3 separate regions of the Homo sapiens genome follow, and regions 2 and 3 are each reported to be linked to region 1. Evidence: microRNA targets listed by miRTarBase, many of them from high-throughput screens and not tested one by one. Region 1 holds a microRNA gene; each other region holds the end of a gene's coding sequence.
Evidence for each region. The annotated mature microRNA hsa-miR-6077 reads GGGAAGAGCUGUACGGCCUUC and lies in region 1 at 1,821-1,841, shown strand. An mRNA with a match to its seed (bases 2 to 7 or 8) in the 3' UTR can be bound and repressed. Matches are read on the target gene's strand: a 7mer-m8 pairs with bases 2 to 8, a 7mer-A1 pairs with bases 2 to 7 and ends in A, and an 8mer does both.

Region 2: miRTarBase lists MYH15 as a target of hsa-miR-6077. Seed matches in the 3' UTR shown: 8mer at 1,280-1,287.
Region 3: the mRNA of ATP6V1F is a reported target of hsa-miR-6077. Seed matches in the 3' UTR shown: 7mer-m8 at 3,380-3,386.

The regions. Positions count from the first base shown.
Region 1 is chr1:148,386,474-148,390,538 of GRCh38, forward strand. It overlaps MIR6077 (microRNA 6077), which reads left to right and starts at 1,809; the gene lies at 1,809-1,890. It also overlaps the pseudogene RNVU1-2. RefSeq lists an enhancer at 1,112-1,951.
Region 2 is chr3:108,377,889-108,381,953 of GRCh38, reverse strand. It overlaps MYH15 (myosin heavy chain 15), which reads left to right. Exons shown (of 41, transcript NM_014981.3): 41 at 395-1,586. The coding sequence ends at 409. It overlaps HHLA2 (HHLA2 member of B7 family), which reads right to left. Exons shown (of 10, transcript NM_001282556.2): 10 at 3,669-4,065. It overlaps LOC124900545 (a long non-coding RNA gene), which reads right to left and starts at 414. Exons shown (of 2, transcript XR_007095998.1): 1 at 303-414. RefSeq lists an enhancer at 3,966-4,065.
Region 3 is chr7:128,865,100-128,869,164 of GRCh38, reverse strand. ATP6V1F (ATPase H+ transporting V1 subunit F) reads right to left here. Exons shown (of 2, transcript NM_004231.4): 2 at 3,318-3,788. The coding sequence ends at 3,587. SPMIP1 (sperm microtubule inner protein 1) reads right to left here and starts at 2,835. Exons shown (of 2, transcript NM_001195150.3): 1 at 2,335-2,835; 2 at 1-499. The coding sequence starts at 2,755. The coding sequence ends at 390.

The sequences.
Region 1 (4,065 bases):
ATATAGTAAATTTGTTAAAGCCAAGACTTCCTATGGAACGAAGTTTGATGGGAGGGGGGACATTGAGTAGTAAGATCACTCTTGTAACAGGGATGCCACTCTTGCAGATATTGACAACTATTGGGCCCATAAAATTTTTACCAAACATTGGAAAGACAAGATATGAACAACTTATCATTGCTGCAGTCTCAAATATCAGGAAATACCATTATTCTCAGGACAATAAATAGACAATAAAAAAAGTCTCACAGAGCAGATTAGCTGTCATGTATTACCAAACAGGGATTGGATCCTTGTCAACACCACCCAACAGAAATTGTCCATACAAATTCACTTCATAACATCAAAACCAAAAGCCCACACTGATGGCAAAAAATAATGACACAATAATGAGAGAGAGAGAGAGAGAGAGACCTGTCCTATAGCCATACTTAGTGTGTAAAAGCCAAAGAGCTCAATTTCTGCTCATGATACTTAATAAAACAGACGGAACATGAGCCAATAATTCAGTGGGTTCAGATCTGCACCAAGTGCCTGTTGGATGCAGGATTCTACTGTCTCCAATAATATGTCTCAGATGGCCTAGTTTTTTTTTGTTGTTTTGTTTTGTTTTGTTTTGAGACAGAGTCTCGCTCTGTCGCTCAGGCTGAGGTGCAATGGCATGATCTCAGCTCACTGCAACCTCTGCCTCCTGGGTTCAAGCGATTTTCCTGCCTCAGCCTCCCCAGTAGTTAGGATTACAGACACACACCACCACATCCAGCTTTTTTTGCTTTTTTTGCTTTTTTTTTTTTTTTTTTTTTTTTTGTATTTTTAGTAGAGACGGAGTTTCGTCATGTTGGTCAGGCTGGTCTCGAACTCCTGACCTCAGTTGATCAGAAGTAGGTGAGGTCAGAAAACATACCCTGGGAAATGCTGGCACAATGCCCAGAACCGCCATCTCTAGGCCTGGGGTTTTCTTTTGTAGTGGAATACTAGTATTCATGCAATGCAGGGACAAGACCAATTAGATACTTCTGGGAGTTAAAAAGAGATGAATTTACAGTGCCATTTGAGAAGGGGTATTAAGGAATTTGCCAGGGTACTGACGCGTGTCAGGTGCAAACTGCAGGTTGAAAGAGAGCTAAGTATTTTCTGTCCATGAAGGTGATAAGGGAGGGCCTGAAGAAAGACGGACCGGGAAGGACACTGGCGCCAGAAGTAGGAAAGGGCTGCTTGGGGGTGGGAAGGATGGGTCGGGGTGCTATCTAAAAAGTTGCCTGGCAATGGATGTAGGATATGGAAGCGAGACATCAAACAAGAAGTTGTCATTTAAATAAAGTCTGAAGAAAGACTAGATATGTAAACAGCAGGAGATAATAGGGAAACTGGACCCCGCTGCTCATAAAACTTCCTGCCTTATATTTCAGGGAGGATCGCAGCGCATTTCAGCCAAGACAAGTAAGACTGCGGTTCTGACCTGCGGGCCTCCACGAATTGCATTAGGGCACCTGGGCTCCGGGAAAGCCATTCCCCTACACAAAGTAAGCGTGTTATGTCTGCAAATGAACGGGGACACTAAGAGCCCCAAAGGCCCTGCTTTCATCCCAAAGAACAGCGCCTGTCTGCGTAGTTTGTACCTGGCTCTATGAGGTGAGAACACATTCCCCGCTAGCACAGAAATCCTACAAACTCCTGAGGGGGCTGCGGTTAGAAGCAGGGGCTGTGTAAAAGGTGACTCTGGGGGCTAGAGAAAACCACGAAGATTTTCACAGAGCGTGAGAACCCAAGACACTGGAGACCATGGACCAATCTCTGCAAAAAGCAGCCCTGCGTAGAAAGGGAAGAGCTGTACGGCCTTCGCGCTAGTTTGTTTGTGTTAAGGCTGACGCTCCCTATTTCTCCTCAGTGGGAGAAGCGACATCTTAATTCCTATTTCCCAGCCTTCCACTGTAAGAATAACACGTCCAAGACACAAATCAATGAAAGAAAAAAGTAGCCCTTAGAGTACAGCGTATTCTTGAAACTACAAAAAATCAGGGGAAAGCGCGAACGCAGTACCACTACCACAAATTATGCAATCGAGTTTCCCACATTTGGGGAAATCGCAGGGGTCAACACATCTGGAGTGCAATGGATAAGCCTCGCCCTGGGAAAACCACCTTCGTGATCATGTTATCTCCCCTGCCAAGTAAATATGAGCTCCTGCACCTCCGCCCCGTACGCCTCACCCTTTACACGCACGGTCGCTTGCCCCGCGCACCCCCCAGCCCTCCTAGCCCTGACACACAGCTGGGACTCTCCGGCCGGACCAGCGGTCCTGAGCCCGCTCCCAAGGCTCGGGAACTCCTTCGAGGCGAAGCAGCAGGTGGGGAAGCAGCAGCTCCTGCGCTGCCTCATCTACATAGAAGTCGCCCTATCCGTGATGTCACCGACAGTGCCTTTCCCAGGCCCCATCTGCCTTTCTGCCAGTCAGCCGACCAACCCGCTGCCTGAACCAGCAAGAGGAAGTGACGTCTGCCTCTCCCTTTTTCCCTCCCGCCCCGGCATCTGTTTTCGCCCAAAGAAGCTGGTCCTTAGCCTATCTTGTGAAGCAAACTTTCGGTGGCCAGATGGAGCCTGGGTACTCTTCTTCACATAATGACTTTTATTTCGCAGACTAGAACGTTTAGGACTACAAAAGAAACCGGTTTTCTTCACATACTTATCCTTGTAATGTAGCATTCCGCTTGAAATTGGAAGCCGTTCAATGTCACAGAGAAACCATATTTATGAAAGTAAAGAGGCTTCTCAGATGACTGCAAACCAGCCTTCCTTACTGATTTTATCACTGGTAATGTTATAAAAACAGTTGTCAAGTTTAATGAATCTTGTAGTTTTTTTTATTTTTATTTTTATTTTTTTCCAAATTCAGTATTGTGGAAAAATATGCTGCCACAGAAGAAATGATTGGACACTCTCAAATGTGGTGTTGCACTTTGTCATCTTTTGCACAGCCATCTCCAGACCTTATTGCTTACCTCGTGTTAGTTTTTTATATTCTGCAAAGACAAAACCAAAATAATCCAAATTTGACAAAAATACCTGGGATACATCTTATTTGTGATGCTTAACAAATGTCTGGATCATCTTTTCTTATATGGGATTATAATGCAGGAAACACTGTGAAGTAAGCAAAGTTGGAATTCCCAAGTCAAAGACCATTTGAATATTTACAAGTAGATTTGAGACAGGAATAATACAGGGTGGTCACAGGATAACAAATTCTAGGCAGCAGATTTACATGACTTGAGGCTATGGGCTGATAAGATGCTGAAAAACCAGGGTGTGGACCAAGCTGGCTAAGACTGACTGGACCCAATGTGGTGCTGGATTTGACGTAGGTTTTACCTAGGCCCTCATTATACGCTTATTAACATACTAAATCACACACCCACCAGTGCCATGACAGTTCTGAGACCAATATTTGATGTAAAAATGGATGGCACCACAGTTCTGAGAAATCTCCACCTTTACCCAGGAATTTTCATCAATATTCCACTCCTTGGTTAAAGAAACCCATTGAGATGAAACCCCAGAACCCATTGTTCTCTCTCAGGTATGCCCAAACTCCCCTTTCTTGAGTGTGTACTTTCTGCTTTGCAATAAATCTCTTCTTTCACTATTTGCTAACTCATCCTTGACCTCATTCTTGAGATGGTGTCAAGAGCCTGGACACCACAGCTGGGGTCGAGATCCTACCAGTGTCCGGGGACCTCCCCCAGCCCACCAGTATCAGATTCTATTCCATTGCTCAAATCACAAAACATCAAATGGAGAATTCTTCTTTGGAGACCACAAAGTAAAGATTCTGTGGCATGGTGGCCAGTTAGGCCACTGGAAGACATGGCAAAATATTGAAAATGAGGGATTAGGTGACAGCGTAGTAACTGCTGAATGTGAAATACTTGATCCAGACCCCATTCCCTGTAGACTGACTGGGAGACACATTGTCCAGGTAGTAGTGGAGAAATACTTTCTGGGTATCTGACCAGCCTTTGTGGAAAGAACTGGCACCATCCTGCAGATGTAACCACCTGATGGGTT
Region 2 (4,065 bases), not on the chromosome of region 1:
CTTCACAGAAGAAAAGCCAAAAAATCCTCAACTGTCATATGCACAAGGAAGAGGTTTGCTGATAGAATTCTGTGTCAGGGCTGGGGAGCAAACTGGTGATGTGGCTGCAGAATCTTTCTCCTTATGGGGTTGGCAAAGGGGGGCGCTGCCTTCATTGGCAAGACAAGGCAGGCAGAAAATTGAGAGTGACCGAGCATGCCCTTGGGGTGAATTACCAGGGTCTGCTTTCTGTAATGCAGATAATTGCCTCAATTCCCTGCCTCCCTTTGAAGTTAATGAAGAGTTGGCTAAGGCCTGCTTACCTCTGGAAGGGACTCAGCTTGGTTCTGGACATGTGTTCCACTGGTGAAAATCACAGGAAATTCACAGAACACACTGACATTCTGTTTTTCAGGTTCAAGAAGAATAGCATCCCCTGCTTTGAAAGGACAACAGCTGGAGAAGTACAAGGAAGGTGCTGTTTCATGGCCAAAAACTTAGGTTGCATGGAAACATTTTTAAAAACATGTTTAAATTGCTTTTCACACCATATAAACAAGGCAATTAGAAAAATAATTAAAGGGAATATCATTGCTTCCACAGTTAATGGGGATTTTTTGATCCTCAAATGCAAGTAAACTACCTTCTAATGCTTCACATGACAGATTAAATAAATGGAAGAACCTTTTCAATTCTGATGTTTAAAAAATGAATAAATACTTGATCCTTTGTCCATATTTCCTCTTAATGGGTAGGACTCATAGAAGATGTCCTTAGACCAGTCACGCTTCATGGGGACTAGGGCATGTTGGTGAATGGTTTTTACTAAAGTTAGGCAACTTTGGCTTGATTCACCCCTAAATCTATGAATGTATATTGTGAGCCAGCAGTGGTAGAATGGAAGTCATAAGATCTCCTCAGCATTGTGATATAAATATAGCTATAGTTAGGCAATTTGAACATGTAGGCAAAACTCTCCTAATCAACACACATGTAGGCTATATGCTGGTACATGCTTTAAACATGGAGGTAACCCCACACGAGACATTCAGTGACAGGTAATATGCTGGATTTGTGCAGTACCGATTTGGCTCAGCTGGAGGAACATGTCCCGGAATTCCTCTCTCTCATGGTTCTGGATTGGAGTAGGTCATAAAGAAATTTGCATTAATTTGATCAGCAGCTATTTTATACTCATAAGGTCAGTGTACAGACCCAAGCATGGTGACAGCTTGAAAATATGACTCCAGGCCAAAAAGGGGAGCTAGAAGAGACCAGAGACAGCTCCCTGGACCCAGAGCTCTTCCAGCTCCTGCCAGCCTCCTCCTTCAGCTTTGCAAAGTACTGGCCAGGTGTGTGTGCAGCTCCATGGCAACCAGCATCAGCTTTTCCTGAGATCACACACAGCATTGCAGTGGAGGCCGTGAGACAGACATGGGTTCTGTTTGTTCTTATGGACTTCCCTTCATCCTTGCTGCATTCACAGTCGACCTACAGTGACTTCAGGCCCAGAACCAGATGCAGAGGGAACAGCCTGGCCTAGACTTCTCCACCAGCACCCACAATTGTGTAAGGCTGAAGCTCTATAATAAATCTTTATTCTGTCATTCTCTGATTCTGCCTCCCTGATCCAACCCTGACTCATATGGGTAGCTTGACGATTAATTCAGGGACTCAGTGGTATCAGAGGACCCAGGTTCATTCTTGTCGGAATCTCTTGTCGCCGTAAGAGGACTTCAGCAGTCCTGAGCATTTTCTCCCCATACGATAACCTGTCTCTTCTTAAAATGGAGAAACACTTTCCCAGAAACAGACCTCTGGAATAATTTTCCTCATACCCTAGTGAGCAGATTTCTTTATCTGCTTATGCTGAACCAGTCTAGTGGCAAGAGGACTGCAATTGTCAGGGTTGGCTCAGACAGATCAAAGTGGATGCTCTTGAAAAATCAGGGTACCATTTTGAGCAAGGTGAACCAAATTTGAGTTTTGTGGTTGGCGGAGAGGGATGCACAGCCACAGAGTGAACTAGCAGGTATGTGTGTCGGGCTGTATCCAAAGCAGTCGCTCCTTCTTACCATCGGTCTTAACGCAATGAGAAAACAACATGAAACATTTAACATGGAACTTTTCTAGGGTTTTTTTTTTTTCCTGGAATAGTAATTTTTTAAAACTTCAGTAAAAAATGTTTGGAATTATCCTTTAATAAGCCAATGTTTATATTCAGGAAACATCTCTATATCCCAAACCTTTTCTTAGAAATTTGCTGTTGTCATATTACCAATCCTGAAGTTAGGATGCTATTGTTTCTCCACACCCCAGGCACATACTCAGTAAAGTAAAACTTCAGCTTGGGGATGCATCCAGTTTTGTTATTAAGTATCATGTTCTCTCACTAGGACACAATTTTTAAAAAGGAACCAAGGCTAGGGGGAAGCAGAGATGGTAGACAAATATTATCTCAATGGAGTTTTTCTTCACAATGGAATTTTTTTAAAAGATATCTAAGTTATATTTATTTTTTTAAAAAAAATTTACTTTAAGTAAGTTCTGGGATACACGTGCAGAACATGCAGGTTTGTTACATAGGTATATGTGTGCCATGGTGGTTTGCTGTACCTATTGAACCGTCCTCTAGGTTCCCTCCCCCGCCCCCCACCCTGCAACAGGCCCTGGTGTGTGTTGTTCCCCTCCCTGTGTCCATGTGTTCTCCTTGTTCAGCTCCCACTTATGAGTGAGAACATGTGGTTTGGTTTTCTGTTCCTGTGTTAGTTTGCTGATAATGATGGCTTCCAGCTTCATCCATGTCCATGCAAAGGACATGATCTCATTCCTTTTCATGGCTGCATAGTATTCCATGGTGTTTGTATCACATTTTCTTTATCCAGTCTACCATTGATGGGTATTCGGGTTGGTTCCATGTCTTTACTATTGTAAATAGTGCAATAAACATACATGTGCATGTGTCTTTATAGTAGAATGATTTATAATCCTTTGGGTATATACCCAGTAATGGGATTGCTGGTTCAAATGGTATTTCTGTTTCTAGATCCTTGAGGAATCGCCACACAGTCTTCCACAATGGTTGAACTAATTTACATTCCCACCAAGAGTGTAAAGGCATTCCTGTTTCTCCACAGCCTTGCCAGCATCTATTGTTTGACTTTTTAATAATTAACATTCTGACTGGAATTCTTAATACTTTGCTATTTGTGATAACCCATCACAACATTGTAGCAAAAACAGAGTTAACTACATACAAGGAGAGGATTGTGAAACTGAGGTCAGATAAAATTGGACCAGGTGGCAGTTACACCACAATTCAGAATTTGCTTTCTCTTATAGAGTTGAAACCTTGATCTACTAAGTCACACAAAAGCCTGGTTATAGTGACAAGTTCACAAGCATTAACATTAGACTGTTTCTTTTATGTAAATTGATGACTAAAATTAAGGGAAACAGATTAGGTTAGCTGAGTTCTCCCTTCTCTTGCTTAAAAATTTATATGAAAATCTAAATTTATTAGAAGATTGATTAGCAATATGCCAATTGAGCCAGAAGAGTTGTTTAAATTATCTTCATGGCTAGTCACTCAACTATGCAAGCCTTGTGTGGTCAAGTGTAACCTAACTTCAGAGATTCTTATGTTCATAGTTTCATGTGCATCCATGTGAAGAGACCACCAAACAGGCTTTGTGTGAGCAATAAAGCTGTTTATTTCACCTGGGTGCAGGTGGGCTGAGTCCGAAAAGAGAGTCAGCGAAGGGTGATGGATTATCATTAGTTCTTATAGGTTTTGGGTTAGGCGGTGAAGTTAAGAGCAATGTTTTGTGGGCAGGGTGGATCTCACAAAGTACATTCTCAAGGGTGGGGAGAATTACAAAGAACCTTCTTAAGGGTGGGGAAGATTACAAAGTACCTTCTTAAGGGTGGGGGAGATTACAAAGTACATTGATCAGTTAGGGTGGGGCAGGAACAAATCACAATGGTGGAATGTCATCAGTTAAGGCTATTTTTACTTCTTTTGTGGATCTTCAGTTACTTTAGGCCATCTGGATGTATACGTGCAAATCACAGGGGATGCGATGC
Region 3 (4,065 bases), not on the chromosome of region 1:
AGGTGAGGGGCGGGCAAGGAGGGGTGTGGCGGTGGCAGGAGGCCCCTTTCCCTGGCCTCCGAAATGACAAGCCGCTCTCTCCCCAGGAACACCCAGAACTTCCTGGAACTACTGTGTTCCCCTGGTGCTGAGGATCCCGTGCCTGCGAAGTAGTGCTCGCCCTTCCCAGCACCCTCTGGTCATTGCTGAGTCCTCAAAGGGATGATTAAAGTGATGAGGGTTACGGAAAAAGCAAGAGGGCAACTTGCAGGTCTGATAGTTTCAGAAAGGCCTGAATGCAACCTCAGGGACAGGGAGAGCAGAGGGGCACAGACACACACAGCAGCTTTGCCCCACCAGGAGGCCTGTTATTTCTTCTTCCCTCCCCTAAGCCCACACCTGGCCCACGGTCAGAGGGCCAGGTCTCGGGGATCAAGCAGTGCGAAGGCCCCGTTCTTGCGGAAGAATGACTCAATGCGGCACATCTTGCAGGAGACCAGTTCTTGCTTCACTGGGGGGCCTGGGAAAAGATGTCAGAGGCCAAGCATGGGTTCCTGAGGGAGGGACACGCAGAGCATGGGAGCCCTGTCTGTCTGCACAGCCCTAGGAATCCGTCAGTGGAGTAGCCACTTTGTGGGAAGAAATAGAAAGTGCTTTGGAGGAATGGGAGCTATGGGCAAATACTGGGAGCTGGCTGGATGCCAGGATACAGCAGCCATCTGCCATCATTACCCTAGCTTCAGGATCCTCTACCTGCAGGGAGGGGGGCCACCCTAGCCTGCTTGTCACAGGGACAGACTGTGGAGAGATGAGATTTCCTTCGGCCTCCTGCTCCCCGCTTCTAGGGCTCGCCTCCTGCTTTTGTTAGAAAGTTATTTCCCTGACTTCCCCTTTAGGGGCCTGGGGGAAAGGGATGTTTGGGGGCAAAATCTCAACTGAGTCAATCCCCAACCATCCACCTTTTCTGCAAGACACTCAAGCAGCTGGAGAAGGGTACAGGGCTGAGGAGTCTCACTTGACATTCATGAGCACAGACAGCAATGGGACGTGCAGCAACATCGCCCAGCAGCCCTGCCTGGCACATGCCTGTTCCACACCTTTCCTCTTCATCTCTAGTTACTCCACTGCCTCAGCTCAGCTCCCTCCCCGCTGATGGCCTTGACTCAACCTCACAGAAAAAAGACTCAGCCGAGATGGACAGGCTTCCTGCCAATGACATCCCCTACCCGCTCTGGCTCAGCCCTCCTGCCCCCACTCCCATCAGATTCCAGCAACTTGAGCTCCCTAGGAGATCTCATGGATTTAAATAGCACCTATAGGCCAGCCGGTGGCTCATGCCTGTAATCCCAGAACTTTGGGAGGCCGAGACAGGCAGATTACGAGGTCAGCAGTTCGAGACCAGCCTGGCCAATATGGTGAAACCCTGTCTCTACTAAAAAAACAAAAATTAGCTGGGCGTGGTGACACACGCCTGCAGTCCCAGCTACTCGGGAGGCTGAGGCAGAAGAATCTCTTGAACCTGGGAGGCAGAGGTTGCAGTGAGCCAAGATCGTGCCACTGCATTCCAGCCTGGGTGACAGAGTCAGACTGTTTCAAAAAGAAAAAGAAAAAAAAAAAGCACCTATATTCCAATGACCTCCGAATTTGCATCTTCAGCTCTGACTTCAATCCAGACTTATAGACACAGCCACCCTACAGACACTTCAAGCATAACATAGCCAAACACACATGGCTAAATAGGACCTGTTCATGCACGCTCCAGCCCTGACCTCTCCCAGTCTTCCCTGTCACTGCAGCTTTAGCTAAACAAACACCTGGGTGATTGATCTCTCTTCCCCTTATTCTCACATTCTATCCATGGGTGAGTTCCACCGAGTCTTCCCCCAAAACATCCTGAATTGATTTCAGCTCTATTGCTGATCCCTCAGGCCACTACCACAGGATAACCAAACAGATGCCCAACTCATGTGCCAGATTCTACCATTTCCCCTGAAAAAGCCACTGCCTACATACAGGTCAGGGTGACTTTTTAAAAGGTTCACCAGTGTCACTCTTGAAATCTGCTTAGAACCCTCCATCAGCTTCCCTGCACAACAAATAAAATCCAAACCCATCCTTATCATCTGGCTCTCAGCCTCGGGTCCTCAGAAAGGCCTTTCCTGACAATCCAATAAATAGCAGCACGTGGCCGCTGCCTCCCTGCCCACCGCCACTCCCTAGTTCTGTGGAACGTGTCGACACTTCTTGGCCATCTCCTTGCTCTGTTTATAGTCTGGACCCTTCACCAGGATGCCCACTCCCTAGCACATGGCTAGTGCTCTGTTTTTGAGGTGATTTCCAAGAGGTTGGGCTCACCCAGCTGCCAGCCATACGTGAAGCTGGTGGTGATGGGGAAGAGGTATCGCGTCTCTGGCATGTCCAGTTTTCGAGTGTTGAGGTAGCGGTACCGCCCCTGGAAGTCGTGGGAGATGCCTTCATACAGCAGGGCTCGGGTGATAGGTGGTACCGGGTACATTTCCGACTGAAAAGGCGCCTCTGGGACAGGGCTGGGCACCTTGGAAGGGGCTGACTTGGGGGCGGGTGGGGGTGAGAGTGGGGCTTTGGGGTGCAGGGTGGGCAGTTTGAGGGGCAGGCGGGCTGCAGCCTTAGCCTTCTGCTTGGCCTTCACCATCGACCCATACTTGCGGTACCATTCACAGCGCAACATCTTTTCCCTCAGATATTCCTCCTTCCAGAAGTTCTGCCGTAACGCGTCTATGTTGAGCTGCCGTGACATGGTGGCCAGGGAAGGAGTGGCACCAGGGTGGCCACAGCTGAGGGGTGAGCACAGCAAGCAGAGTGCTTCTGACGGCGAGTGGCTGCCCAGGCACAGTCACCTGGCAACCATGCCTCACCTCACACAGGGCCAGGGTTCTACTTGCCATGCCCCCAGCAGACCCCATGAGCCTGGCTTCCTGAGGCAGCCTGAGGCCAGGGCCCACTGGTTAAGAGCCCTGCTCCCCCCAAAACTCCCGCAGGGCCCTCGCGGGATCTGGCATCACAGACTCCCAGGTTTCGTGTGCTTTCTGCTTCTGTCCTTTGGATCTGGCCCCCTTCCCAGCCCAATGCCGAGCAAGGTGGGGGAAGCAGGAGCTGGGCTCAAGCCTCCTCCCATTCCTCCCCAGACCAGAGCTGGTCTTCTCTGATCCAAGGACCAGTCCTTGAGTTCTGCCTCCCGGCACAATCCTCCTGGGCCACCTCTTCTATGCCTGTCTTTGGCAGCACCTTTTCCATCCTTGCCAACCGAATCTGCCCCATGGCCTCACCCCACACATGTCCTTTCCAGCACCCAACCCATCTGGAGAGAAGCAAGAATATGACTTTAATTTAACATCAACAATGACACTGTGTAACAGCACAGGGAAGAGGTAGTGGAGGGAGATGGTCAGGCTTCCTGTTCCTTAACCAGCAGAGCCCCAGCAACCTAGAAGCGCCTCACCTAGCCTCTTAATGGAGTGGGAAGGAGCAGGGAATTGGAAATCAGAGGCTCAAAAAGTAAAGAAGGCTGATGGCAAGCCTGGGGAGAGGCCTGGAAACGAGGGAAGGGCTGAGGGCTATGAGGAGTCCCCTAGCGCAGGTCTTCGGCAGTGAACATGCCCCTGGCCCTGCGCAGGATGGAGTCCTTGGCGGCGTCATATGGGTGCTCCTTGGAGGGGATCTCCAGGACAGCGGGGATGGACTGCTGGTGGGCGTCCAGGGCATGCCGCACCATCTCTGCGATGTACTGGTTGATGAGGATGATGCCAATGTCATCCCGGTTTAGAAATTGCCTGTGGGGAGAGATGAGAAGGGAGTCCAGGACAGCTCTGGGGGCTGCCGTCTCTCCTACCCAGGCAGCCCTCTCCGAGTTGTTGGGCTGGGCTGTGGAGGGGAATGAGCATGACCCAGAGGGCACAGAGGACAAGGGGAAAGGCTGCCACGCTCAACCCTCTGTCAACCCTACCTAGAATCAATTTCATCCCAAAGCGGAGGGTCACGCTGATTAGGGTTGGCTTCTACAACACTGCCCGGAAGGCTTCCAAGTGAACTGGTAATGAAGATTGATTA